Regions from separate parts of the Homo sapiens genome. Here region 1 is linked to region 2. Evidence: fine-mapped expression QTL. A gene starts in region 2. The other region holds a variant in brackets. All regions are shown on one strand. Distances are from middle to middle.

Region 1 (15,323 bases), 97 kb after region 2:
TATTTATATATATTTATATATTCATATATATTTATATATTTATATATTTATATATATTTATATATATATTTATATATATTTATATATATGTTTATATATATTTATATATATGTTTATATATATATATAAAGAAATGTATTATAAAGAATTATTTCACATGATTAAAAGACTAAGAAGTCCCAAGATTGATGGTGAATCAGTAGGCAAGAGACCCAGGAGAGCCGATGGTGTAGCCCAAATCAAAGACCCACACGCTCAAGACCCAGGAAGAGTCCATGTTTCAGTTTGAGTCTGAAGGCAGGAAAAAACAAACGTCCCAGGCTGAAGGCAGTCAGGCAGGAAGAGCTACCTCTTATTCAGCATTTTTGTTCTCCTCAGGCTTCAACTGATTGGAGGAGGCCCACCCACATTAGTGAGGGCAATCTCCTTCATTCACTCTGCTGATCCAACTGTTAATTTCATCCAGAAACACACTCACAGACAAAGCCAGAAAGTCTTGCATGTCATTGACCAAATGACCAGTCAAGTTGACATACAAAATTAACATCACATCTGGGAGAAATAGAGATTGTAATATCACTCTGTGTTTCTTTAAAATATTGACAGTAGTCAGGCTGCTCACAATAGAGGCCACTGCTGTTTCAGTCATTTTGGAACTGATAGGCCTTTAAGGGCTATGAGTGTTTGACAGATAACATTTTTTAAAAATAAAAACAAAAACTTCCTTGCATCAGTGAAATCATTATTACCTGTCTGTCTTCCTGGAAACTAACTGGAATTATGTCTTCAGCTCTTCCAGTTTAAAGATTTCCTGAATATGAGGAATATTTCTTTTGTCTTATAGAGAATGTTTGGAAGTAGGGTGACCCCTCGAATATTCCCTACTTCACACAGTAAATGACATTCAGAACTGCACACCAGGTGGACAAGATGTAATTGCTTATGTCAAATGACTTGCTTCACCTGAGCTGTTTCTGCACACACGGAGCATGGAAGCTGGAAAGGCCACCGCCACTGATGAGCTTCTACATGACTCAAGGACACAGAAGCTCTTGACGTCTGTAATTAAACACACACATGCACAAACAAAACAGTCTCTCAAGTCCATATCTGAAGCCAGTGTCTTGTATTTCCATAAATCCTGGCTCATGTGACATCTCTTGCTTAATTGCCCTTTAAACTGTTTTATGGCTTTATAGCAACCTATAAAAGGTGATTTCCAAATATGACAAGCGCCGGAGGGCTGAAGGGAAGAGTTACCCAGGAGTTGTAATCACTGAATCTATAGCTGCTTCCCTAGCAGCTCAGCCTTCCCAAGAAAGGGAGAGGAACTGCCAGGGCACCGAGACGCCATGGGGCGATACTCCGGAAGAAGCTTCCGTTTAATCCTCATGTGCGTCGTTAGCATCCTCCTCTTTGTGATGGAACTAGTGATCGCTTACGTTGGCAACTCCCTCTCCTTGGCCTCCGATGCTTTTGCCGTCCTTTCCCACTTTGTGTCCATGATCATAGGTTTTTTTGGTGTAAGGGCCAGTAACATAAAACAGCACAAGAAGAGCACTTACGGCTTTCTTCGGGCAGATGTTGTGGGAGCATTTGGGAACACCATTTTTGCGGTGGCGCTGATGTTCAGCATCCTGGTTGAAGCCATCAAAAGGTACATCAATCCCCAGAAGACAGAGGAGCCGATACTGGTTCTCAGTGCTGGAATTATCGGTCTGTTCTTCAATGTTCTTAACTATGTCATCTTCTTGGACTGCTGTTACTGCGCAGCACCCAAGCCCCAGGGAGACATGGAAGCAGGTAAATAGCTACTCAGAGGGTGGCAGTAAATTTGGTGAGAGTCCTGGCAGGTGCTGTCTGAGGGGGCCTTTGTGGTGCTATCCAAAGGGGCCCGAGTCTTTGGGTCAGCCTTTTGTCCCTGTGATTTTACAATCGACCTTTCTCAGAAGAGTTGCCTTTAGTTTGAGGTTCCTTGTGAGTAGGGTAGCAGCAGTTTGCTTCAATGTTGGGAGGACTTCTCGAATTTTTACTCACAGGGAATGAAAAAGTGTCTTCAGGCACGCAGAGAGGAAGTAAAGGCACTAATCGTAGCCACAGAGAGAGCGATTGGAAAGACGGTGGATGTGGCAGTCTTCTTTAAGTGATTCACTGTTGTTTACCCATATGTGACATGGCTATGTTTGAATTTAAAAAAAAGTTAATGTCTCCATAAAATATGTTTAAAAGTACTGGGCTACATAACCAACTTACAAAGAGCACAGTATCAGACAATCAGGTACGCTGATTAACTGTTAGGAATATATTTGAGGAATGGTATGTAAAATGGCGAGAGAAAAAATAAAGAAGATAGTCCAGTAAATGGGCTAGTTTTTGAAAGGAAAATTTGCACTTATTTATTGCATACGTCTGTTCTGTTTGAGAAACAGGACAATTTACATGTGAATCTTTAGGAGAGACTTAAGTGTGAGTACCAAACTTATTAGATTATCTGTCAAAAGAATGGAATTAAATCTTGGAAGAGAACAATATATCTATAAGATGCTTTTTTTTTAAGATGGAATCATGTTTCTTTAATTTATTGCCACAAGAGGTGTTTGTAAGTATATATGTATCAGAAAGTTCTTACAGAAGAGAAATTTTTAGTGCTTTTATAAAAGAAGTCATATAGCATGAATAGATTCAAATTATGGTTCCAGCACAGGGCAATAGTCAACTTACTTCACCTAGCATGTTTCTCTACCTGTAATATGGAGTTAATAAGGACTGAGAGAAATGCTAAGTAACTTATTTAGTATTTAGTAGGCACTTGATAAATATAAATTATTTTCGAAATCACAATGCAAGCCTTTAAACTACATGGCAATCCGGTATTTAATTCTAATAGCTCATATGAATTTTTAAAAATTTCAAATATTTCCTTATTTGATGCTGAAGAGTTTTCTCTCAGTAGCTGGGCCATTATATAACTGAGTATGGGGACCTCAGAGGCTAAGTTGCATTTTTTATTTGATTCCCTGTCTTTGCTACTATGATAAATTACGTCAGTTGGAGCCGGTCCTTTATCCTACCTCTGTGTCGATTTTCCTGTTGGTAGAACATATGTTATGAGAGTATCTGTAGGATGTGGTAAACATAAAAATAAATTAGAAACTAGAGTCTAGATTTTTATTTGAGTTAATGAATCACTGAATTTGGGCCTCATCTTTTGTAAAGGAAAATTCATTGTTAACTTGAGACCCTATGCTATGGCTACACCAATCATCGTGAAAATTACTACTAGAGCTTCCAGATCATGAAATTCACATATTTCATATAAGACAAATATATATTTTTTATTGCTAGGTATAAATTTAAGGCAAGAGAGATGATTTCAAATGATTAGTGTTGACATTACCATTATATTTTTGATTGTCACATAACAGTTCTGATTTTGCCTTCATTCTTGACATACAACATTTACCTGCACATAACAAAAGCAATTTAGGTAAACGGTCTGACTCTGACCAGTATGAAACTTGGTACACACCATAGTTCTATTTTTATAAAATTGAATTATTACTGGATAGGTCTTAGTTAAGCTTTTGTTTGGGAAGTGGTATTTTCCAATGTGTATGTTCATGCTGAGATAACAAGAGGCTTAAGACAAATGTTTCACTCCAACCATATGGGTTTCTTTTTTTTCTTTTCTTCTTTTTTTTTTTTTTAATTTTTATTTTTAGTAGAGACAGGGTTTCGCCATGTTGGCCAGGCTGGTCTCGAACTCTTGAGCTCAAGTGATCCACCTGCTTGGCCTCCCAAAGCACTGGGATTATAGGTGTGTGCCCCAGTGTCTGGTCCAGCCATATGGGTTTCTGCTGGCTTAATTCTAGAGTATCTAGCTTGTTTTGAAGTATTTGATGCTATATAGTGTTCTAGTTTAAATAAGTGATAGGTACAATACACGTGTGACTCACGCTTTAAGATCCATGTTCTATGTTACCATTATTATTTTGGCAGCTTTTGGTGTTGTTAAATTCTTCTATTAGAAATTTTAGGCTGTGTACAGCAGCTCATGCCTGTAATCCTAGACTTGAGGAGACTGAGGCAGGAGGATCACTTGAGCCCAGAAGTTTGAGGCTGCAGTGAGCTATGATCACACCACTGCACTTCAGCCAGGGTGACAGAGTGAGACCCTGTCACTAAAAAAGAAGAAAAAAGAAAAAGAAAAGAAATTTTAGTGTTTAAACTTGCCAAATTCCTTTAGGACAGCTGTTTGGCTTGTTAGCATTTATGTCTGCAGTTATGTATCACCTTTTCTGAACCATACATTTTGGTATTCTTCCCATCATCTAAATTGGTTTAAAGAAAAGAATAAATATTGCATCAGA[C/A]GAACGTCATAAATTGACATTAACCTGATATCAATTGGCTCACATTTTAAGAACAAATATGATTAATCCATCCATATTTATAAAAGGAGTTATAAACTATGAGAGGGAAAGACTCTTGATTTCAAAAGATTCAACCTAAACTTAGGATAAAGAATTTCTGTAAGTCTAGAACCCTAGCTTATAGCACATGGCAGTGCCTATAAAACAACTCCTGGTACCGCCTGGCTTCATGATCAGAATCCAGTAATGTATCACTTCTTTTGTGGAATCTCTAACTAGAGATTTTGCTTAACAAGCCTTCAGTCTCCCCCAGGTTTTGTGGATCTTTTACTTGTTCTGCTTATCTATCTGGTGTAGAAATTGAATTCATAATATTTGATGTTTGAGATCATGGAAAGTAAAAAAAATCAAGACCACTAACTTTAAATTAAATATAATAGAACAAACTATATATAGGTAAGACTTTAAATATCCCTGGGATTCATGAAAAAAGTTATACTGGAGAATCAGACATACAGAACCAGAAAATTTTTAAAACCTGCGAGAAAAGAATGTCTGGAAGATTTAGCTGAGATGAGAAAACTTGGAAGTCTTAGATCCAGATCTAGCCGGTGGGAGGTCACCCCTGACTCTAAAAGGTGTGAGGAAGTTCAGGTGATGGTAGAGCCAGTATTTTTGGCTAAAGTGAGAGGCAAAGTGAAAAAAGTAAAAAATACGAGCATTAAGTAAAAGACAAACAAACAAAATAGGGTTAAAGTCCACAATGGTCGATGGCTTTGTGTGTGCATGTGTTTCGGGGAAGGGAGTAGGGGAAAGGTTGAAGGGGTGGAAACAACATGTAGGTCCAGATCGCAGGAGATACTTGTCACGAGCCAGTTTCTTTCTCTAGGCTTAGGGACTCCTTTTGTTAACGTTTATACGTTTTCCTATTCCTTGCTTACTTTATTTGATTTTCCTTGATTTTCTTGTTATCTTTCATGTTTAAGTCTTATTTTTAGTTATTTTTTCAGACCTGAAGTTTCTTTAGAATCAAGCTACTAAAACCCTCCATGCCCTTGCCTTGTACTGTACGAATAACCTTGCTGTACAGTGGCCTTTATTTTAACCTAAAGGTGACCTTGTACAGCTCACTTTTCTAGTAGGATGGCTTCTGCTCTATTTTGCGTCTTTTTCTGTCTGGGATAGACGGGGCCTGCCATTTATATCATGTACAAATGATACATTTATATCAGAAATATCTGTTAATTATTTTAAAGTATTTTTTTCTTAAAAAAATGCCTTTCCTTTGAATTTAAGTTTTTTTTTTTTTTTTTTTTTTTTGAGATGGAGTCTCACTCTGTTGCCCAGGCTAGAGTGCAGTGGTATGATCTTTGGCTCACTGCAACCTCTGCCTCCTCGGTTCAAGCAATTCTCGTGCCTCGGCCTCCCAAGTAACTGGGATTACAGGCGTGCGCCACTATGCCCAGCTAATTTTTGTATTTTTAGTAGAAATGGGGTGTCACCATGTTGGCCAGGCTGGTCTTGAACTCCTGGCCTCAAGTGATCCACCCGCCTCAGCCTCCCAAAGTGCTGGGATTACAGGTGTGAACCACTGTGCCCGGCTAAGTTTTGTTTTGATTCCAAATTGTGCTTGCTTTCTCTCTCTCTCCTTCTGTTTCTCATAATCACGGTTCTGGCATTATGTTTCTCCAACCAACTCGCTAGAGGCAGTGACAGCACAGCATCCAGCAAAGTGTATTGTTGCAGAAGGTTTTAACACACTGCTGATTAGTTGCTCATGCAAGCTTCTAGTTAAGACTCAGTACTATAGCCTGACATGGGCTTTTCACGTGGACAGTCCTGTAGCCGCTGAAACAAGTCAGGTTTCCTTTTGTCATAGAGGAAATTTTATTCAGTGACAAGCAGAGTAGGCAAGGCCAAGAATTTTAGGAGAGGCAAAGGGGAATTTGCTGTCTCTCTACCAGTAGCAAATACTATGGAGTAAATAAAATTTGAGGCCGGGCGCGGTGGCTCACGCCTGTAATCCCAGCACTTTGGGAGGCTGAGGCGGGCAGATCATGAGGTCAGGAGATCGAGACCATCCTGCCTAACACGGTGAAACCCCATCTCTACTAAATATACAAAAAATTAGCCGGGCGTGGTGGCAGGCGCCTGTAGTCCCAGCTACTCGGGAGGCTGAGGCAAGAGAATGGTGTGAACCCAGGAGGTGGAGCTTGCAGTGAGCCGAGATCGGGCCACTGCACTCCAGCCTGGGCAACAGAGCAAGACTCAGTCTCAAAAATAAAATAAAATAAAATAAAATAAAATAAAATAAAATAAAATAAAATAAAATAAAATTTGAGAAGCTGCATAATTGAAGGTAGCTTTTCTTTCTTTCTTTTCTTTTTCTTTTTTTTTTGAGACGGAGTCTCACTCTGTCACCCAGTCTGGAGTGCAGTGGCACAGTCTCGGGCTCACGATAACCTCTGCCTCCCTGGTCCAAGCAATTCTCCTGCTCCTGCCTCAGCCTCCCGAGTAGGTGGGATTACAGGCTTGTGCCACCACACCCGGCTAATTTTTTGTATTTTTAGTAGAGACGGAGTTTCACCGTGTTAGCCAGGATGGTCTCGATCTCCTGACCTCATGATCTGCCCGCCTCGGCCTCCCAAAGTGCTGGGATTACAGGCATGAGCCACCGTGCCCGGCCTGAAGGTGGCTTTTCAAACTAGAAAAGGGAAGGTTTTCTAGGCATAGGTTACCTGAGTTCCCTTTCTAGATCGGAGGCAGAATGGTAATGATTGGGAATTTGTGATAATTATTAAATAATTTAAAGAAACATGATGCTTAATTCCCACCAGCTTTACTTTGCATTTTGTCTATATCTGACAGTAACCATTGTTTTCCAAGCACTGTCACAGCTGTTGATCAATTAACTTCCACATGAGGATTCGGTGATAAGAATGCACACACCACAGATCACAGTATCTGTCCCATGGTAGAGACCTAATAAATTCCCTCACAGCTCTTTTGCTACGTTCCTGACAGCTTACCTAACCTCTTACTTCTCTTGTTGTCCCGTGAAGGGGTCTGGATTAGTTACGGGGAGTAAATAAGAAAGATTAAAGGAAGATAGAAAAATAGGTGCTATTTCACATTTGTGAAACCAAATTCAACTGAAGAAAAAAGAAGTTAAAGAGACCATCTCTTTGTTCTTAGTAATTTTTTTTTCCAATGTGCAGAGGCTGCTATGACTGATATCAGGTAAATTTTAATGAAAAATGAGTTTATATTGACATCTGTGCATTGTCAGTCTTTGTCAGAGTATAGAGAGAATAATTAACAGCATCATATCACATACATTTGAAGAACTGTACAAAATAATTAGCTAGAGAGAATACTTGCTATTTATTTCCATTGTTTAGACAAGGAAAACAGGTTCAGACAAATTCCACAATCATACAGCTAGTTAATAGTAGGGTACAAAGAAATTAAAACTTTGAGTCCAGGCCCTTAATTAAAGACTCTACTCTACTTGGCTCCCCTCAGAGAGGAAAACAGTTATGGACTGTGGAAAGTTATTTGGCAATAATCACAAAAGGGCATATTAAAATGTGCAAATGAACATACCATAAGTTGAATCCTAATTCCAGTAGCTAGATGACCTCCAAAAAGTCACTTAAACTTTCTAAACCTCAGTTTCTTCATCTGTAAATCTGGTAATATCTGTCTCTTAGAGATGTTGCAAGAATGAAATTATATTATTTGTGTAAAGTACTCAACACAGTACTTGGAATACACTGAACACTCAATAAATGGTAACATTGGTGGTGGTGGTGGTGGCTGGTAGTGATTGTCCAAGGGCTGAAGGGAAGAGGAACTAATGAAATATTAGTAAGATCCCTTGGCAGACAAGGTCTCTGCTCTATTTCACATCCACAAACTGGCAGGCCACCTTATCCTTGCCAAGACTCTTATTATTGTTAATCATATATATGGTTACAGCAGATCCATCACTATTTCTACAAACCGTACAAAACATGTGTTGTTTTGATGATGGGTTAGTGGCATCTCTTGTGGGATGAACCAGAAGGAGCATAGACCAGTAACAAAAATATATATTTCAGCTGGGCACAATGTTCATGCCTGTAATCCCAGCACTTTGGGAGGCCAAGACAGGAGGATAGCTTGGACCCAGGAGTTTGAGGTTGCAAAGAGCTATGATAGCATGCCATTACACTCCAACCTGGGTGACAGACCAAGTCCCTGTTTCTTTCCTTTTCTTTTCTTTTCTTTTTTTTTTTGAGATGGAGTCTCACTCTGTCGTCCAGGCTGGAGTGCAGTGGCGCGATCTTGGCTCACTGCAAGCTCCGCCTCCTGGGTTCACGCCATTCTCCTGCCTCAGCCTCCCGAGTAGCTGGGACTACAGGCACCCGCCACCACACCCGGCTAATTTTTTGTATTTTTAGTAGAGACGGGGTTTCACCATGTTAGCCAGGATGGTCTCGATCTCCTGACCTCGTGATCCACACGCCTCGGCCTCCCAAAGTGCTGGGATTACAGGCGTGAGCCACCGCGCCCGGCCCCCAAGTCCCTGTTTCTAAAAGTAAATAAATAACTACACAATAAATTAACTTAAAAAAAGAAAAATACATGTTCTGGAACGTCCTCCCTCATCCACTGGTTCTGACACTGGAAAAGATACTTAAGCACTTTGAGCCTCATCTTAGGTATCATTACACCTATTTTAAAGAATCACTCTACAGCCAGGGGCGGTGGCTCACACCTGTAATCCCAGCACTTTGGGAGGCTGAAGTGGGTGGATTGCTTGAGCCCAGGAGTTTGAGACCAGCCTCGGCAACATAGCGAGGACTCACCTCTACAAAAATAAGAAAAATTAGCCAGATGTGGTGGTGCGTGCCTATAGTTCCAGCTACTTGGGAAGCTGAGGTGGGAGGATCACCTGAGCCTGAGGACAGATGCACCTTCTTATCAAGGCTGCAGTGAGCCATAAGAATCTGTTTTTCTTTTGACAAATAACAACACCTTCATGGTGTGTTTTATTTATTTATTTTTGAGACGGAGTTTTGCTCTTGTCACCTAGGTTGGAGTGCAATGGCATGATCTCAGCTCACTGCAACCTCTACCTCCTAGGTTTAAACCATTCTCCTGCCTCAGCCTTCTGAGTAGCTGGGATTACAGGCGCCCGCCACCACGCCTGGCTAATTTTTGTGTTTTTTAGTAGAGATGGGGTTTCATGTTGGCTAGGCTGGTCTCAAACTCCTGACCTCAGGTGATCCACCTGTCTCGGCCTCCCAAAGTACCGGGATCATGGGCATGAGCCAACACGCCCAGCCTATGTGTTATTTATTTATTTATTTATTTTTAGACAGAGTCTTCCTCTGTTGCCCAGGCTGGAGTGCAGTGGCACGATCTTGGCTCACTGTAAACTCTGCCTCCCGGGTTCACACCATTCTCCTGCCTCAGCCTCCCCAGTAGCTGGGACTACAGGCACCCGCCACCATGCCTGGCTAATTTTTTGTATTTTTAGTAGAGATGGGGTTTCACTGTGTTAGCCAGGATGGTCTCGATCTCCTGACTTCGTGATCCACCCACCTCGGCCTCCCAAAGTGCTGGGATTACAGGCATGAGCCACCGCGCCCAGCCAGATTTTTAAGAAGGCTCTTGTAAATGTTAGCTTCCCCATCTTTCAGTGCTCAAGATGGCATTTTGTAGCAGGCCATTACTTGTACTTTTAAAACTACATATTTTAAACTGCTTTAATGGTAATGCAATGTCAATATGTAGCTCATTGAAATAATGCAAATGTGGCTCATATACTAGACTGTAATTTCCAAGATACAGATGAAGAAACTGAGGCATCAACCGTTTTATGGCTAACCCAAAGTTGATGTTAGAGCTGGACTTTGTATTACTGCACCTCTCTTCTGTCAACAGATAGTTTGCCTCTTGAATATTTTCCTGCAGTCCTGTCTAGTGAATAATGATACTCCCCATTTTCTTTGCTGAGAAGCTTGATTTTTCAGGAAGGTAGGGTGAAAGTAAGCTTATTATTTTGGTTTTCTTATTGGCTAGCTGTTTACAAGATGGAGACATTATATTTCTAATTTTTTGCCTCTTTCTTGTTCTTTTGATGGAGACAATAGTCATTGTGGCTTTTTGAAAACATTGTGTACAACTGTCTCTGATGATTATGAAATACACCAATTTTTCTTTTTTTATTTTTATTTTTATTTTATTTTATTTTATTATTATTATACTTTAAGTTTTAGGGTACATGTGCACAATGTGCAGGTTAGTTACATATGTATACATGTGTCGTGCTGGTGTGCTGCACCCATTAACTCGTCATCTAGCATTAGGTATATCTCCTAAAGCTATCCCTTCCCGCTCCCCCCAACAGTCCCCAGAATGTGATGTTCCCCTTCCTGTGTCCATGTATTCTCATTGTTCAATTCCCACCTATGAGTGAGAATATGCGGTGTTTGGTTTTTTGTTCTTGCGATAGTTTACTGAGAATGATGGTTTCCAATTTCATTCATGTCCCTACAAAGGACATGAACTCATCATTTTTTATGGCTGTATAGTATTCCATGGTGTACATGTGCCACATTTTCTTAATCCAGTCTATCATTGTTGGACATTTGGGTTGGTTCCAAGTCTTTGCTATTGTGAATAGTGCCGCAATAAACATACGTGTGCATGTGTCTTTATAGCAGCATGATTTATAGTCCTTTGGGTATATACCCAGTAATGGGATGGCTGGGTCAAATGGTATTTCTAGTTCTAGATCCCTGAGGAATCACCATGCTGACTTCCACAAGGGTTGAACTAGTTTACAGTCCCACCAACAGTGTAAAAGTGTTCCTATCTCCACATCCTCTCCAGCACCTGTTGTTTCCTGACTTTTTAATGATTGCCATTCTAACTGGTGTGAGATGGTATCTCATTGTGGTTTTGATTTGCATTTCTCTGATGGCCAGTGATGGTGAGCATTTTTTCATGTGTTTTTTGGCTGCATAAATGTCTTCTTTTGAGAAGTGTCTGTTCATGTCCTTCGCCCACTTTTTGATGGGGTTGTTTTTTTCTTGTAAATTTGTTAGAGTTTTTTGTAGATTCTGGATATTAGCCCTTTGTCACATGAGTAGGTTGCGAAAATTTTCTCCCATTTTGTAGGTTGCCTGTTCACTCTGATGGTAGTTTCTTTTGCGGTGCAGAAGCTCTTTAGTTTAATTAGATCCCATTTGTCAATTTTGGCTTTTGTTGCCATTGCTTTTGGTGTTTTAGACATGAAGTCCTTGCTCATGCCTATGTCCTTAATGGTAATGCATAGGTTTTCTTCTAGGGTTTTTGTGGTTTTAGGTCTAACGTTTAAGTCTTTAATCCATCTTGAATTAATTTTTGTATAAGGTGTAAGGAAGGGATCCAGTTTCAGCTTTCTACATATGGCTAGCCAGTTTTCCCAGCACCATTTATTAAATAGGGAATCTTTTCCCCATTGCTTGTTTTTCTCAGGTTTGTCAAAAATCAGATAGTTGTAGATACGTGGCATTATTTCTGAGGGCTCTGTTCTGTTCCATTGATCTATATCTCTGTTTTGGTACCAGTACCATGCTGTTTTGGTTACTGTAGCCTTGTAGTATAGTTTGAAGTCAGGTAATGTGATGCCTCCAGCTTTGTTCTTTTGGCTTAGGATTGACTTGGCGATGCGGGCTCTTTTTTGGTTCCATATGAACTTTAAAGTAGTTTTTTCCAATTCTGTGAAGAAAGTCATTGGTAGCTTGATGGGGATGGCATTGAATCTATAAATTACCTTGGGCAGTATGGCCATTTTCATGATATTGATTCTTCCTACCCATGAGCATGGAATGTTCTTCCATTTGTTTGTATCCTCTTTTATTTCATTGAGCAGTGGTTTGTAGTTCTCCTTGAAGAGATCCTTCACGTCCCTTGTAAGTTGGATTCCTAGGTATTTTATTCTCTTTGAAGCAATTGTGAATGGGAGTTCACTCATGATTTGGCTCTCTGTTTGTCTGTTATTGGTGTATAAGAATGCTTGTGATTTTTGTACATTGATTTTGTATCCTGAAACTTTGCTGAAGTTGCTTATCAGCTTAAGGAGATTTTGGGCTGAGACAATGGGGTTTTTATTTTTATTTATTTATTTTTGAGACGGAGTTTCTCTCTTATTGGTTGCCCAGGCTGGAGTGCAATGGTGTGATCTTGGCTCACTGCAACCTCTGCCCCCCGGGTTCAAGTGATTCTCCTGCCTTGGCCTCCCAAGTAGCTGGGATTACAGGCGTGATTACAGGTGTGAGCCACCACACCTGGCCTCATTGTTTTTTAATGAGAGGCAATAATATCTGGAGATTCCCTGTCCTTAGAATGTTTTCCATAGTCCATGTCCTGATATATACTGTCTGCACCTGAATAGGTGTCTTTAGAGAATTTTGAGGAGGTAATTTTTTTTTGAGACAGGATCTTGCTCTGTCACCCAGGCCAGAGTGCAGTGGCATGACCACAGCTCACAGCAGCCTCAACCTCCCAGGCTCAAGCGATCCTCCCATCTCAGCCTCTTAAGTAGCCAAGACCACAGGTGCCTGCCAACCATACCCAACCATTATTTTTCATTTTTTTGTAGAGATGGGGGTCTTACCATGTTGCCCAAGCTGATCTCGAACTCCTGCCCTCAAGCAATCCTTCCACCTTGGCCTCGCAAAATCCTAGGATCACAGGCATGAGCCATTGCACCCTGAGGATGTAGTTTTTGATAAAGTATACCTATGCTCTTGTTCTTCATCTGCCATGAGATCTTTAAAAATGTATCAGCTTAATAGGAAATAAAATAAAGATGATCCTTACATCAGGTCAATGGGAGGTAGGGGCTGGCTCCTTACAAAGGAACAGCAGAGAAGTCAGGTTGAAGGGGCAACTGGCTGAATGGACCATCTGTTTTCTGTAGAATTCTTTACCTGAAGAAACTCTCTTAAGGTCATGAAGGAGAGGAAAGAGGAGAACTAGCAACTAGCTCCACACATGCTGACCAGAGCCAGTTGAGCACATTGTTGGGACTTTTGGGGGCCAATAAACAACTTCATTCATAAATCTGGAACTACTTGAGAAATAAGGAATAAAAGTCCAATAGCAATGAAAATAGTAGCTCAGTGTTTTTGGTAAAAGCTGTTTTGGAGAGTGTAGCTTGGATGTCACAATTGGCTTCCTAATACTAATTCTGTGGAGTAAACTCACCTATCCTCTTACAAGCAGAGCACAACAACTGGAAGAGCAGGGGTGGGCCCAGGAACAGAGAGAATGTGCCTTCTCAGTGGGCAGGCAGTTGGAAGGAGGAAGCCCAGGAAGGGCTGAGCCAGGCTTAATCCATTTCTTCAACCTAACCCGCCAGTGAGAGAAGACCCTTCCACCCTCAGAGTGACTACTTACATGGGGACTGGGGAGGGAATGGAGGCTACACTGGTGGTCGTCTCATGGAAACACAAGACAAGAGGAATGGCAGTCTCCCCCAACACTCTCCAGATTTATGTTCCCTTCACTCCTGGCTCCCCTGGAAGGACTAGATGAACAGTTTATCAGGACTGTACTGCTGCATTTCCATAAAGCTTGTGCTCCCAATATCAACCACTGCTTCCTTTGGATTTCATCCTTTGGAACAGGTTTGGCAATTTAGATACCCTCAATGACTGAAAAGGGTTAGAAGAGTAAGTATACTAGTTAAATTAACTCTGAGGCCCCCAAATGTTCAATATTGCTCATTGGCAATTATATAGTGACACAAAGTGATAGTATCAAGATATGCTAACAATTCAATGTCAGCAATATAAAAATGCCCCAAATTTTAGCAATATGAATCCCTTCCTATTATCAAATTATAACAGAAAATTAAATTTCAAAATTAAATATCTTTGAACTTATGTATTAATAGCCAAAGAAATCAAAACCACTGTTTATTAATCTAAAGGCAAGACCAAAGGCAAGTAAAACCACAAAACCCCCAAGCTTCCTCTTTTGGGCACAGTCTCAGTTTGAGTATAGTTTCATGCCTGGTGGAGTTGGAGTTCCTTCAGCAGTTTCAGTCTGGATTGTTTTCCACTAGAATGGATGCCATTCCTTCAGGGCATCCAAAGTTGCATAAGTTTAGCACCAAGACTTTCATGTTCTCCACCTTTTAAAGATCTTCTCTTTGTCTTTGATGTTCTTCAGTTTTGTAATCATATTTCCATATGTGGACTCTTTTTAAAAAATCCCATCTGGGGATTAAATCCAAGCATTTATGTCTTTCATAAATTCCAGAAGATTTTTCAAACATTATCTCTTCTAGTTTTGGCTTTCCCCTGTTCCTTGTACTTTCTCCTTCTGCAATGCTAATTAGATAATATTTGATCTTATTCTGTCCTCCATGTTTTGTAACTTCTTTTTTCACATTTTGCTGTTTTCACATTTTTGTTGTTCTGTGTTGCATTCTACGTGGTTTTTCAGATTTACCTTCATTTATTTCTAGTTTTTGTTTTTTAACTTCGGTTCTCATTAACCTGCCCATTCAATTTTTTAAAATTTTATTTTGAAATCACTTTATATTCTCAGTAAGTTACAAAAATAGTACATAGAAGTCTCATGTACCCTTTGTCAAGTTTTCCCCAATGGAATGATAGTACAATTTCCAAACCAAGAAATTTACATTCATACAATGAGTTATATAATTCTACGAGATTTTTGTCACAAGTGTAGTTCTGTATAACCATCACCAAAATCATCATTACAAAAATATCCCTCATGGTACCCTTTAGTAGTCATAGCCACCCTTCCTACCTTTACACCCTATCTCTATGCTCTGGAAACTAATAATCTGTTTTCCATCTTTATAATATTTTTATTTCAAGAATGTTAAATAAATGGAATCATACATATGTGACCTTTGAAATGGGCTTTTTTTCTTTCAGC
Region 2 (14,647 bases):
GAGGCCGAGGCGGGTGGATCGCCTGAGGTCAGGAGTTCGAGACCAGCCTGGCCAACATGGCGAAACCCTGTCTCTCCTAAAAATACGAAAATTAGCCGGGCATGGTGGTGTGTGCCTGTAATCCCAGCTACCAGGGGGCTGAGGCAGGAGGATCACTTGAACCTGGGAGGCAGAGGTTGCAGTGAGCTGAGATCGTGCCACTGCACTCCAGCCTGGGCAACAAAGCGAGACTCTGTCTCAAACAATAAAAATAAAAATTCACAGGGTTTATCCCAACGATTTTGCTTGTGTGTGTGTGTGTGTGTGTGTGTGTGTGTGTGTGTTTATTTACTTATTTATTTATTTATTTTGAGACAGAGTCACTCTCTGTCACCCAGGCCAGAGTGCAGTGGTGCAATCTCGGCTCACTGCAACCTCCACCTCCCGGGCTCAAGCGATTCTCCTGCCTCAGCCTCCTGAGTAGCTGGGACTACAGGCACATGCCACCACCCCTGGCTAATTTTTTGTATTTTTAGTAGAGACGGGGTTTCGCTGTGTTAGCCAGGATGGTCTCGATCTTCTGACCTCATAATCTGCCCACCTTGGCCTCCCAAAGTCCTGGGATTACAAATGTGAGCCACCACGCTCAGCCTGCTTCTGTATATTTTAAGAAATTCAGGGACTGATAATCATTTAACTCTAGGACTCACTAGATAAGGTAATATAGTATTATTTTATAGAAGTGTCATAATCTAGCAGGAAGAGGTCTCTGTGGTCTTGACACCTTTGAGCCCTCCCTCCTGTAAGTCTCTTCTCATTGTCCTGGCTTTCTTTTTTCACCTAGCCACTCCTACTCAGTCTCCTTTATTGCTTTCTCTTTGTCTTCCTTCCCTTAAATGTCACTGTTTACCAAGATTCTGTTCTAGTCTCTCTCCTTTCTTTTTTTTCTTTTTTTGGTAGAGATGGGGTCTTGCTATACAGCCCAGGCTGGTCTTGAACTCCTAGCCTCAAGCAATCCTCCTGCCTCTGTCTCCCAATGTGCTGGGATTATAGGTGTGAGCCACTGCACCTGGACTATGCTTTCTCTCCTTTCTCACCAGAGGATCTAATCCACCTGTGTGACTTTTGTGGCGCTTTTGCTCATTAATCCAAAATCTTTAGCTTAGAACTCTCAAACTCTAGATCTATATACCCCAAAACCTACCTAGATGCCTTACAGAGATGTCTGAATGATTATGTCTAAACAGTTCTTCACTCTTGCCCCGACCCCTCCAGAAATTATTTTACAAACCCATGAGGTGATCTTGATAATTGGCCAAGTTAGAAAATCATCACCTGAATCCACCTGCTTCCCTCTACGAATGGAGTTCTCTATCTGTAAATAGTGGACTAAACCTAATTTTTAAAAAATCTAAGTGTAACAAGAGAATAACTTTATTTTTATTTATTTATATATTTCTTGAGACGGAGTCTCGCTCTGTCGCCAGGCTGGAGTGCAGGGGCGCAATCTTGGCTCACTGCAGCCTCCGCCTCACGGGTTCAAGCGATTCTCCTGCCTCAGCCTCCTGAGTAGCTGGGATTACAGGCATGTGCCACCACGCCCAGGTAATTTTTGTATTTTTAGTAAAGATGGGGTTTCACCATGTTGGCCAGGCTGGTCTCGAACTCCTGACCTCAGGTGATCCGCCTGCCTTGGCCTCCCAAAGTGTTGGGATTATAGGTGTGAGCCACTGCGCCCAGCCCTAAGATAATAACTTTTTTTTTTTTTTTTTTTTTTTTGAGATGGAGTCTCACTCTGTCACCCAGGCTGGAGTGCAATGGCATGATTTCAGCTCACTACAACCTCTGCCTCCCGGGTTCAAGTGGTTCTCCTGCTTCAGCCTCCCGAGTAGCAGGGGCACACCACCACACCTGGCTAATTTTTTGTATCTTTAGTAGAGACAGGGGTTTCACCATGTTGGCCAGGCTGGTCTTGAACTCCTGACCTCAGGTGATCCACCTTCCTCAGCCTCCCAAAGTGCTGGGATTACAGGTGTGAGCCACCACACCCGGCCGAAAATAACTTTGAAGGTATTTTCTTCAGGTTCCTATACGAAAACCCAATTTATGTAAGTGAGATATGTAGGAGTCTAAATCCTCTCTCCATTACTCTTGACTCTACATTAATTACATTAGTTTATACCCTTATACCCCGTTATTTCTTCCCTAGATCCCTGCAGTGTCTTGACTAATCTTTCTGCCTACACTGTAACCCATCTATCTCTCTCTCATCCATTTATCACGTCATCTCCAGAGTGATTTTTTTGTTTTGTTTTGTTTTTGAGACAGGGTCTCGCTCTGTCACCCAGGCTGGAGTGCAGTGGTGTGCTTATAGCTCACTGCAGCCTTGACCTCCTGGGCTTAAGCAATTCTCCTGCCTCAGCCCCCCCAAGTAGCTGAGACTACAGGTTTGCACAGTAACGCCTGGCTAAGCCGGGCGTGGTGTCTCACGCCTGTAATCCCAGCACTTTGGGAGGCTGAGGTGGGTGGATCACTTGAGGTCAGGAGTTCAAGACCAGCCTGACCAATATGGTGAAACCCTGTCTCTCCTAAAAATACAAAAATTAGCCAGGCATGGTGGCACATGCCTGTAATCCCAGCTACTTGGGAGGCTGAGGCAGGAGAATTGCATGAACCCAGGAGATGGAGGTTGCAGTGAGCCAAGATCATGCCACTGCACTCCAACCTGGGTGACAAAGAAAGACTCCATCTCAAAAAAAAAAAAAAAAAAAAAACGCCTGACTCATTTTTGTATATTTTTTGTAGAGATGGGGTTTCACCATGTTGCACAAGCTGGTCTCAAAATCCTGGTCTCAAGGGATTCGCCCACCTCAGCTTCCCAAAACGCTGTGATTTTACAAGCGTGAGTTACCACACCGGGCCCAAAGTGATTTTTTAAAATCAAATGTAATGCCATTCCCCTTACTCAAAATATTTTATGGCTTTCCTTTGCCTTCAGGATAAAATGCAAACTCCTTATAATGATATATGAAGCTCTTAATGGCTTCTTCCTTCTCCAGCATCAACTCTGACCCTAACCTATACTGTAGCCATGCTCAACCATTTAAAGTTCCCCTAAAACACTATCTTTTCTCTTAGCATGGCCTCCATTCATTGAACAAATATTTATTGAGCACCTACTATGTGTTAGGCACTGAACATAGGTACTGAACATTCTTTCTTTTTTTTTTTTTTGAGACAGAGTTTCATTCTTGTTGCCCAGGCTCACTGCAACTTCTGCCTCCCAGGTTCAAGCGATTCTCCTGCCTCAGCCTCCCAAGTAGCTGGGATTACAGGTGCCCGCCACAACGCCTGGCTAATTTTTTGAATTTTTAGTAGAGTTGGGGTTTCACCATGTTGGCCAGGCTGGTCTCGAACTCCTGACCTCAGGTGATCCACCCGCCTCGGCCTCCCAAAGTGCTGGGATTACAGGTGTGATCCACCTTGCCCAGCCAGGTACTGAACATTCAACAGTGGATGTAACAGTGACCATAAGTCTGTTCCTTTGTTGAGCATGTGTTCTTGTGAAACAAGACAGATAATAAGTAAATAAAATTTTAGATTGTGGTAAATGCTATAAATGAAATCAGGAAGATGAGCTAGAAAGCAACTGGGGTAGGGTTGGAGGGTTGAAAGAGGATCTTCTGTACATAAAAATAGGAGTATGTTTTCCGTGGAGATGATGTCTGGTCAGGCACACTAAGAGCTGAGATTTCTAGTGTATATAGCAAGCAAACAACATCTCTGAGAAGACAAAGAAAAAGAACTTAAAGGAAGCCACAGTGGCTGAAGTAAAATGAACAAGGGGCAGAGTGTTATAAAATGAGGTTGGGATAGATCCTGAGGCAGAACTTGGGTATTAAAAATTATAAAAAAGAAATGAGATTGGGGATGCAGGTAGGGGTCAAGTCATCTACATCCTTAAACATTTTTAAAAAATATTTCAAGGATTGAGGGGAAATGGGAAGTGACTGCCAAAGGGTACAAAGTTTCTTTAGGGGATGATAAAATGTTCTAGAAGTAATTGTGGTGATGATTGAACTCTGAATTATACACTTTAAATAGGTGAATTTTATGGTATGTGAATTATATCTCAATGACGCTGTTAGAAAAAATAAAATGAGGCCAGGCATGGTGGCTCACGCCTGTAATCCCAGCACTTTGGGAGGCCAAGGCAGGTGGATCACCTGAGGTCAGGAGTTCAAGACCAGCCTGGCCAACATGGTGAAATCCTGTCTCTACTAAAATACAAAAATTAGCTGGGCGTGGTGCTATGTGCCTTTAATCCCAGCTACTAAGAAGGCTGAGGCAGGAGAATCGCTTGAACCCGGGAGGCGGAGGTTGCAGTGTGCTGGGATTGCGCCACTGCACTCCAGCCTGGGCGACAGAGTGAGACTCCATCTCAAAAAAAAAGAAAAAGAAAAAAGAAAATGGTCGTATGTGTCTAGTGCCTACCACACTGTATAGCATAGCTCTGTATCTTCTTCTCCAGGCTTATCTCATCCATTTTAATAACTACTCACACCTTCAGCAAAACATTTCAACTGAGCCCCAGATTTTATTATATTATTATACAAATATATTACAAATATTATACAAATATATACAAATTATATATTATACAAATTATACAAATATAATACAAATATTATACAAATCTGCAATTTGTAAAGGATATTTTCACCTACATATCTTACAGACATCTCAAAAAATCAGTCTAGAACCAAATAATTTGCCAACTCTGTTTCCTCTCTTGTCTTCCCTCCTTTGATAATGACATAACCATCCACCCATTTATCCAGCTGAAATCTAGGAATAAACCTAGGCAAATTTGCTTCTCGGCCGGGTGCAGTGTAATCCCAGCAATTTGGGAGGCTGAGGATGGCAGATCACTTGAGGCCAAGAGTTTGAGACCAGCTTGGCCAACATGGCGAAACCCCATCTCTACCAAAAATACAGAAAAATTAGCTGGATGTGGTGGCACACGCCTGTACTCCCAGCTACTTGGGAGGCTGAGGGATGAGAAGTGCTTGAACCTGGGAGGTGGAGGTTGCAGCGAGCTGAGATTGTGCCTCTGCACTTCAGCCTGGGTGACAGAGGGAGACTGTATCAAAAAGAAAAAAAATTAAAAAATTGCTTCTTTCACCATCACCTCCCCAAACATCTCGTCTGTCATTACTGATTTTACCTCCTAAATATATCTGAAACTTGTTCTCTATTCTCAGATCTTATTCCACTGCCTTAGTTCAGGCCATCATCTTTTATTTTCTCTCATATGGACTGTTGTAATAACATCTTAACTGGTTTCCCTAATGCCAGTTCTGCGCACTCCAAGTCATCTCCTATATTATTGTCGAAGTCATCCTTGTAAAATATGATCCTAATCACATCTCCTGCTCCTGCCTAAAACTTTTCACCGACTTTCTATCATAAGATAAAATCTTGCTCCTCAGCATGATATATAGAACTCTTCCTAATTTAGTCTGCCTACATTCCAGCCTTTTAGTCCCTTACTTCCAAAAGATTTTATATTCTGGCAATAACGAACTGGTCAGAGTTTTCCAAGTACACACAGCTTCATGACTTCAGGTTTTAGCTCATATTCTTCTTTTACCCCCTTTTTTCCCCCACTCCTTAAATATACTTTTTTTGAGGGGGGGGACAGGGTCTTGCTCTGTTGCCAAGGATTGAATACAATGGCATGATCATAGCTCACTGCAACCTTAAACTCCTCAAGTGGACTCAAGTGACCCTCCTGCCTCAATCTCCCACGTAGCTGGGACTACAGGCATAAACCACCACACCCAACTAATTTTTTTTTTTTCTTTGTGGAGACAGGGCCTTGCTATGTTACCTAGGCTGATCTCAAACTTCTGGCCTCAAGTGATCCTCCCACCTCGGTTTCCCACAGTGCTAGGATTACAGGTGTAATTACAGGCATACAGGATTACAGGTATATTACTGTGCCCAGCCAAATATGCCATCTTTTAGCCAAAGCTTTCCTTTACCATTCTGTCTTTCCTTCCTCACTCAACATGGATAATCATCTTCCATCTTCTGAGCTATCTTTGTACTTTCTGCAAAGTTTATTATTTTTACTCTCATTTCAATTTTTTTTTTTTTTTAGACAGAGTCTCACATCTCACTCTGTCACCCAGGCTGGAGTGTAGTGATGCGATATCGGCTCACTGCAACCTCTGCCTCCTGGGCTCAAGCAATTCTCCTGCCTCAGCCTCCAGAGTAGCTGGGATTACAGGCATGTGCCACCAAGCCCAGCTAATTTTTGTATTTTTTGTAGAGATGGGGTTTCACCATATTAGCCAGGCTGGTCTCAAACTCCTGACCTCAAGTGACCCACCCGCCTCAGCCTTCCAAAGTGCTGGGATTACAGGTGTGAGTTACTGCACCCCGGCCCCAAAATGTTTTTAATATGAACATATTTCTATTGCTACATATATCTCACTGTGTAGCAATTTTTATTTACCTTGTGTTTTTGTTTTGTTTTGTTTTGTTTTTTAGACACAGTCTTGCTCTGTTGCCCAGGCTGGAGTGCAGTGGCGCAATCTCAGCTCACTGCAACCTCCACCTCCTGAGTTCAAGCGATTCTCCTGCCTCAGCCTCCCCAGTAGCTGGAATTACAGGTGTGTGCCACCATGCCCGCCAGGCTAATTTTTCTATTTTTAGTAGAGACAGGATTTCACCATGTTGGCCAGGCTGGTCTCCAACTCCCAACCTCAGGTGATCCACCCACCTCGGCCTCCCAAAGTCTGTAGCCTTCTTGGTCAGGCACGGTGGCTCATGCCTGTAATCCCACTACTTTGAGCAGTTGAGGGAGGAGTATTGCTTGAGTCCAGGAGTTCAAGACCAACCTGGGCAACACAGACCCCATACCTACAGAAAATAAAAAATTAGCTAGGCATGGTGAGCATGCCTGTAGTTCTAGCTACTTGGGGGGCTGAGGTGGGAAGATCGCTTGAGCCCAGGAGATTGAGACTGCAGTGAGCTATAATCGTGCCACTGGACTACAGCCTGCTCTGTCTAAAAAAAAAAAAAAAAAAGTTTGGGCGTGGTGGTTCACACCTGTAATCCCAGCACAGAATCCCAGCACTTTGGGAGGCTGAGGCAGGTAGAACACCTGAGGTTGGGAGTTTGAGACCAGCCTGGGCAACATGGTGAAATCCCGTCTCTACTAAAAATACAAAAATTAGCTGGGCATGGTGGCACACACCTGTAATCCCAGCTACTCAGGAGGCAAAGGCAAGAGAATTGCTTGAACCAGGGAGGCGGAGGTTGCAGTGAGCCCAGATCATGCCAGTGCACTCTAGCCTGGGCAACAAAATGAGACTCTATCTCAAAAAAAAAAAAAAGGCTTCTTGAGGACAGGGACTTCACCTTTCATCTCTGTATCTCCTGTTTATGTACACAATAATAAGGAGTGAAAATCCAATACCCATTCTTGATTTTAAAAAGAATCCAGGGCTGGGCACGGTGGCTCAGGCCTGTAATCCCAGCACTTTGGAGGCCGAGGCGGGCAGACCACCTCAGGTCAGGAGTTCGAGATAAGCCTAGCCAACATGATGAAACCCCATCTCTGCTAAAAATACAAAAATTAGCTGGGCGTGGTGGCAGGTGCCTGTAATCCCAGCTACTTTGGAGGCTGAGGCAGGAGAATCACTTGAACCCAGGTGTCGGAGGCTACAGTGAGCCAATATCATGCCGTTGCACTCTAGCCTGGGCAACGAGAGCGAAACTCTGTCTCAAAAAGAAAAAAAAAAACCCTGTTAACCTAAGAATATATAAGAAACCAGCGGCAAACACTATTCTTTTTTTATTTTTATTTTCAGGGAAAGGGTCTTGTTCTGTCATCCAGGCTATAGTGCGGTGGCGCGATCATAGCTCACTGTACCTTCAAACTCCTGGTCTCAGGTGATCCTCCCATCTGGGCCTGCCAAAGTGCTGACATTACCAGCAAGAGCCATTGCAGCCAACCTAGCAGACACTATTCTTTTTTTTTTTTTTTTGAGACAAAGTTTTGCTCTTATTGCCCAGGCTGGAGTGCAATGGTGCCATCTAGGCTCACTGCAACCTCTGCCTCCTGGGTTCCAGTGATTCTCCTGCCTCAGACTGCCAAGTAGCTGGGACTACAGGCATGCACCACTACTCCAGGCTAATTTTGTATTTTTAGTAAAATGACGCGGTTTCACCATATTCACCAGGCTAGTCTCGAACTCCGGACCTCAGGTGTTCTGCCTACCTCAGCCTCCCAAAGTGTTGGGATTACAGGTATGAGCCATTACACCTGGCTTACAGACACTATTCTTTAACATTTTTTTTTTTGAGACGGACTTTTTGCTCTTGTTGCCCCGGGCTGGAGTACAGTGGCATGATCTCTGCTCACTGCAACCTCCAGCTCCCAGGTTCATGCGATTCTCCTGCCTCAGCCTCCTGAGTAGCTGGGATTACAGGCATGCACCACCACGCCCAGCTAATTTTGTATTTTTAGTAGAGACAGGGTTTCACCATGTTGATCAGGCTGGTCTCGAAGTCCTCTACTTAGGTGATCCACCCACCTCGGCCTCCCAAGTGCTGGGATTACGGGTGCGAGCCACCGTGCCCGGCCACAGACACTATTCTTGATAATGCAACATTAGCGGCATTCCCACTAAAGTCAGGAACAAAGCAAATACTCTCTTATTCGACACTATTATTGCTCCCATTTAACATCATTCTGGAAGTTCTAGCCAATGAAAGAGATAAGATATAGGTCATGTAAATTTTGGATAGGAAGAAAATGATATTTACCTAGAAAATCCAACATAACTAAAAAATGATTGGAACTAGTAAAAGCATCCAACAAGATGGTAACTCTAAGACCTAAGACTTTCTGCTATAAGTCCCACTATCCTGAAAGTAGGCTTCTTTTTTTTTTTTTTTTTTTTTATTGAGATGAAGTTTTGCTCCTGTTACCCAGGCTGGAGTGCAATGGCGTGATGTCAGCTCACCGAAACCTCTGCCTCCCAGGTTCAAGCGATTCTCTGGCGTCAGCCTCCCGAGTAGCTGGGATTACAGGCATGCACCACCACACCCAGCTATTTTTTTGTATTTTTACTAGAGATGGGGTTTCTCCATGTTGGCTTGGCTGGTCTCAAACTCTCGACCTTAGGTGATCCGCCCGCCTCAGCTTCCCAAAGTGCTGGGATTACAGGCATGAGCCACCGCGCCTGGCCTCAAGTCTCATGGGAGATGTAATCTAAGGGGCCCTCCCTAATGAAAACAAGGATGTCTTGGGGAGGTTAAGAAAAAGTGTAGGCGAGGATGTGGTTGAGATGGTTCTTGGAATCCATCCCGGGTCCCCGTACTTTAACACCAGCCCTTGAAATATGGGTGCAGCTCACACACACGAATGTGTGTATACACCTTGGAGTATCTCTGGAGCTCATGCATGCACGTCCGTCACAAAGGATTTGAAAGGGAGAATCAGATGAGACGCTGAAAAAAACACCTGTGGACTCCATGATTGGGGGCGGCATCGGAGGGTTTTTTTGTTTTGTTTTTTAGATCAGGTCTCTCCCTGTGTCGGCCAGGCTGGAGGGTAGTGGCTACTCACAGGCAAGTCCACGGCGAGGCCACTACAGCCTCATCTTCCTGGGCTCAGGCGATCCTGCCTCAGCCTTCTTAATAGCTGAGACTACAGGAGCGCGCCACTGCGCCTATCTGCAGTGATTTTTTGTTTGTTTTGAAACGGGGTCTCAGTCTGTCGCCCAGGCTGGAGTGCAGTGCCGCGATCTCGGCTCACCGCAACCTCCTCCTCCCGGGTTCAAGCGATTCTCCTGCCTCAGCTCCCCAAGTAGCTAGGATTAAAGGTGCGCGCTACCATTCCCGGCTAATTTTTGTACTTTTAGTAGAGACCCCCGTCTCTACAGTTTCACCATGTTGGTGAAGCTGGTCTCCAACTCCTGACCTCGAGATCCGCTCGCCTCCGGCCTCCCAAAGTGCTGGGATTACAGGCCTGAGCCACCGCGCCCGGCCTCTGCTGTGATTTTTTTTTTTTTTCTTTTCGAGAAGGAGTCTCACTCTGTCGCCCAGGCTGGATGCAGTAGCACGATCTCGGCTCACTGCAACCTCCACCTCCCAGGTTCAAGCGATTCTCCTGCCTCAGCCTCCCAAGTAGCTGGGATTACAGGGGCCCACCACCATGCCAGGCTAATTTTTGTATTTTTAGTAGAGATGGGGTTTCACCATGCTGGCCAGACTGGTCTCGAACTCCTGACCTCAGGTGATCCGCCCGCCTACACCTTCTAAAGTGCTGAGATTACAGGCGTGAGCCACCACGCCCGGCCTGCAGTGATTTTTAAAGAGTCTTTTATATTTCCTTTAACCATTATTTTCAACACGCAAATAACTCTTGAAAATACGTTCTTGTTTTGGAAAAAAAAAAACGGGGGGGAATGTATAAAATAAACAACGAGAAAAACTTCTCCCATTCCCAACGTAATCATGGCTATCGTGTGTATGCTTCCAGGACTTTTCTTTTTACATAAAGACAGTGCATGCTTTTGTTTCGTGCTTCACATAAACGCCTATCCCATCTTAAAGATGGTTTTACAACCTGCTGTTTTACGACCTGCTGACTTGACGAAGTGTCGTAAAGTCCCGTCCACTTCAGCGTCTTTCCCACCGCAGCACGAAAGGCCACGCAGGCCGTTCTAACCCTGGCGGCCAAGAGGAGGGGTAGCAGGCTCTGGAACCTGCGGGCGGGGACGAAGACGGCGCGCGACGATGTCGCACCGCGGCGTGCGCGGTGTCGGCAGTAGCTGCGGCGCAGGGGCGGAGCGAAGGCTGCGGCGGCGTCGGGTACGCGCACACGTTGCATCTTCTTCCTTTCGCGGGGTCCTCCGTAGTTCTGGCACGAGCCAGGCGTACTGACAGGTGGACCAGCGGACTGGTGGAGATGGCGACGCTCTCTCTGACCGTGAATTCAGGAGACCCTCCGCTAGGTAAGGGGCCGAGACCAATGACCTGTGTGGGTTGCATCAGCCAGGGAGGGTGCAGGGCGTGGAAGGTCGCTGCGCCCCGGCTTTGCGCAGTGGTGGTCACCATCTGGGATGTTGGACCTGCCCCTCGCCCCAGAATTGTACGTGGAGGAGGCTCCGCACCCCTCGCCCCGTGTCCCCGGCAGGTGCATCTGCTCCTGAAGATGGTTTTCCCGGGCATGGAGGGAGGCGCAGTGTGAGCCCGGGCTAGACAACACGAGACTCCGCTTCGGATCTTTTTCTCAGAGGGATGAACTCCCAGTCAACTCACCTCTCCCTTTTTCCCCCGGAGAGCGAGAGTTGCTCGTGGAAATAAGATTTTAAAACTTAAAATCCAATAGTCGTCGCTTCTCTTTTAGCATTTTTCCCCCAACTCCTTTTCTTACCTCCTTTCCTGTCCTGTCCCTCCTCTCAGGAGAAATCCTCAGTTCACTTGAGTCAAATTTTCCTTACGTTTTATCGAGTTCAGAAGAAATAACCCAGACGAGCATATTAGCATTTAGGATTTCAACTGAGGCTGCATTTATTTTTAATTAAATGTGGTAGGGTAATTGGGGAAAACACCCAGGTACACTGTAGACTGATGCGGTTGCTTTTACTGCACCCTGTGGATGTGTAGTAAATTTCAGAGTAAACATTGGATCTGTCACCTTACTGACACATCTTAAGTTCTGTTTGGAATTATTTTTTCGACATGACCAAGATTATTGTTGGTAGATTGCTTAGAATTTCTGCTTTTTCATTACTTTGGGAAATTACACAGAAGAATTTAAGTAGTTTGCCGATTTTTTTTTTTCTTTTGAGAGTCAGGGTCTTGCTCTATCGTCCAGGCTGGAGTGCAGTGGCGCTTTCAAGGCTCACTGCAGCATCGAACTTCCGGGCTCAGATGATCCTCCCACCTCAGCCTCCTTAGTAGCTGGGACTACAGGCGCGTGCCACCATGCCTGGCTAATTTTGTGTTTGTGTCTTTTTTGGAAAGATGGCGTTTCACTGTGTTGCCCAGGCAGGTCTCAAACTCCTGGGCTCAAGCCATCCTGACTTGGCCTCCCAAAGTACTAGGATTACAGGCGTGAGCCACAGTACCCAGCCTGACCTAATATTTGTTAATGCATATGTATGATAATACACACACAGTACTTTCTAATGTTGAAGAAGCCCATACCTTTATATACAGTTGACCACGTGGGGCTGATGAAATTATTCATTATATTCTCAACTTTGGTGATGTTTTAAGGTTGTTGAACAAAAACACAACTTAATAGCCATTTTAAACATTTAAAAGATGGTAATGTTTTGGCATATTGGTTGCAGTAATGGACTAACCGCACAACAAATCAATGAACTCTAAAAGGAATGGGTTTGATTCCTGAGCTGGAAAGGCATTAGAGTGCCTTCATGATTGAGAGCAAAGACATTTGGTTTCTGCAGACCTGAGTCCAATCCTGGCTGCCACTTACTAGTTGTGAAACCTTGACAAGTTCCTTATTTAGCTTCTCCCATAGTTTCCTTGTTTTAAGAAAGGGAGAATAATGTCTTCCAGATAGGATTGGTTGCCAGAGTTAAGTGAGACTATAGTTAAAGCTCCTGATACTGTTTTTTTTTTTTTTTTTTTTTTTTTTTTTTTTGGAGACCGAGCTCATTGCAACCTCTGCCTCCCAGGATCAAGCAATTCTTGTTCTCAGCCACACGAGTAGTTGCGCTTAGAGGTGCGCACCACCATGCCCGCCTAATTTTTGTATTTTTTAGTAGACACAGCATTTTGCCATGTTGGCCAGGCTGGTCTCAAACTCCTGACCTCAAGCAGTCCGCCCGCCTTGGCCTCCCAAAGTGCCAGGACCACAGGTGTGAGCCACCATGCCCAGCCTCCTGATACATTTTTTGTTACTTAGAAAATCACCCTGAAGGTGGCCTGTTTCTGTAGTGTATTACAGAACTCAGAATTCTGCCAGTATTCTGTGAAACTCTTGTCATTTTGAACTGTATGCCAGTTATCAAATATATCATTTTTCTAATTGCTCCTCTCCCTTTTTAATTTTTGATTTAATTATTCCCAGTTTAATTCAATTACATTTTATCTTTAAGTAATATAATTAGATGAAACATTTTAAAATAATAGTTGCATTGCTAGAATTTTCCTATTTTGTATGCATTCATCATGTTATATATTTAATGTTAATTTCAAACTTAAAATAAAGACCTTTTTCCCCCATACCACCCAAGAGCATACTGTAGATATGAGGCTTCAGTATCTCAGCATAACTCCAGTGTACATCCCCAACAAACTTGGAAACTCCAGGTGATCTCACACAAGCACCCAAATCAGGAAATACACTTGGATACAATGCTTCCATCTAATGCACAGACCCCATCCTTGTTCTATCATTATTTGTTACAACCAGACCCTCCATAGTGTTGAGATCAAAATCCCGTATTATGCTTTGTTTGCATCTGATTGTCACCTCTCTCCAGTTTCTTTCAGTCTGGAATGGTTTCCTAGTCTTCCCTTGGCTTTCATAGCTTTGACCTTTCTGAAGATAACAGGCCACTTAACTTGAAGAATATCCTCTGTTTAAGTTGTCTGATATTTCCTGGTGTCTAGATTCAGGCTCTTTGTTTTTGGCAGGAATAGCGTAGTTATTCCTTGTTCTTCATTGCAGCCCATCAGTTGGTGCATGAATTTAATTTTCCCATTACTGATTATTCTAACCTTAATTTTAATGGGCAGATGCATTGGAATCATGTAAATGTTCCACTTTGCATCAGATCTTCACCCACTAGTTTCAGTATCCATTGATACTTCCTGCCTAACTTGATTTTTATGATTTTATGATGTTTGCGAGATAGTGACTTTCCCATTCTACCATTCCTTCTGTATGTATTAGTTGGCATTTTTCTGTGAGGAGAGCTTTCTCTTTTTCCCATTTAAAAAAATCATAGCAAAAATACTCAAGAAGTTACAATTTGTATTATTTTCATTTTCTATTTAAAATTATTTTGTTTTTAAAAATTAGTTTTATTGAATTATAACTTGTATACAATTGTTCACCAATTTTAAGTGATTGACAAATGTGTACAATGTGACAAATGTGACAAGTGTGTAATCTACACCACAGTCATCATGTAGAGTATTTCCATTACTTCAGAAAGTCCTCTCACGCCCCTTTGCAGTCATTCCTTTCCCTACTCCTAGCACCTAATAGCGACTCATCTTCTTTTTGTCACTTTTTTGCTTTTTCTATAATTTCATATACATTGAATCATATTATATATATTCTTATATTCTCATATGTGCCTAGGATAATACTTCTGAAATTCATATATCTTTTTGTCTATGACAGTAGTTTACTTTTGTTGTTGTTGATGTTGTTTTTTGTTTGTTTGTTTTTTGAGATGGAGTCTCACCCTGTCACCAGGCTGGAGTGCAGTGGTGCGATCTTGGCTCACTGAAACCTCTGCCTCCCAGTTTCATGTGATCCTCCTGCCTCAGCCTCCCGAGTAGCTGGGACTATAGGCGCATGCCACCACGCCCAGCTAATTTTTTGTATTTTTAGTAGAGACGGAGTTTCACCATGTTGTCCAGGATGGTCTCGATCTCT

Which allele goes with the higher level. Alleles are on the strand shown, and positions count from the first base shown. SD is a standard deviation of normalised expression in the study named.
As copies of A replace C in region 1, the expression in fibroblasts of the gene that starts at base 10,853 in region 2 goes down (small effect, 0.15 SD a copy in GTEx).

Evidence for each region. PIP is the estimated chance that this variant, and not a neighbour inherited with it, causes the effect. A credible set is the group of variants that fine-mapping cannot tell apart.
Region 1: its variant is the best candidate, but not a certain one, in a credible set for the expression of EPRS1 in fibroblasts (GTEx, PIP 0.73).

The regions. Positions count from the first base shown.
Region 1 is chr1:219,945,048-219,960,370 of GRCh38, reverse strand. It overlaps a transcript of SLC30A10 not described here. Among named protein-coding and RNA genes, the nearest start is that of SLC30A10, 24 kb to the right of the region's middle. The variant C/A (reference allele first, on the strand shown) is at 4,371.
Region 2 is chr1:220,042,711-220,057,357 of GRCh38, reverse strand. EPRS1 (glutamyl-prolyl-tRNA synthetase 1) reads left to right here and starts at 10,853. Exons shown (of 32, transcript NM_004446.3): 1 at 10,853-11,015. The coding sequence starts at 10,970. RefSeq lists enhancers at 10,642-10,711, 10,772-11,101, 11,143-11,700.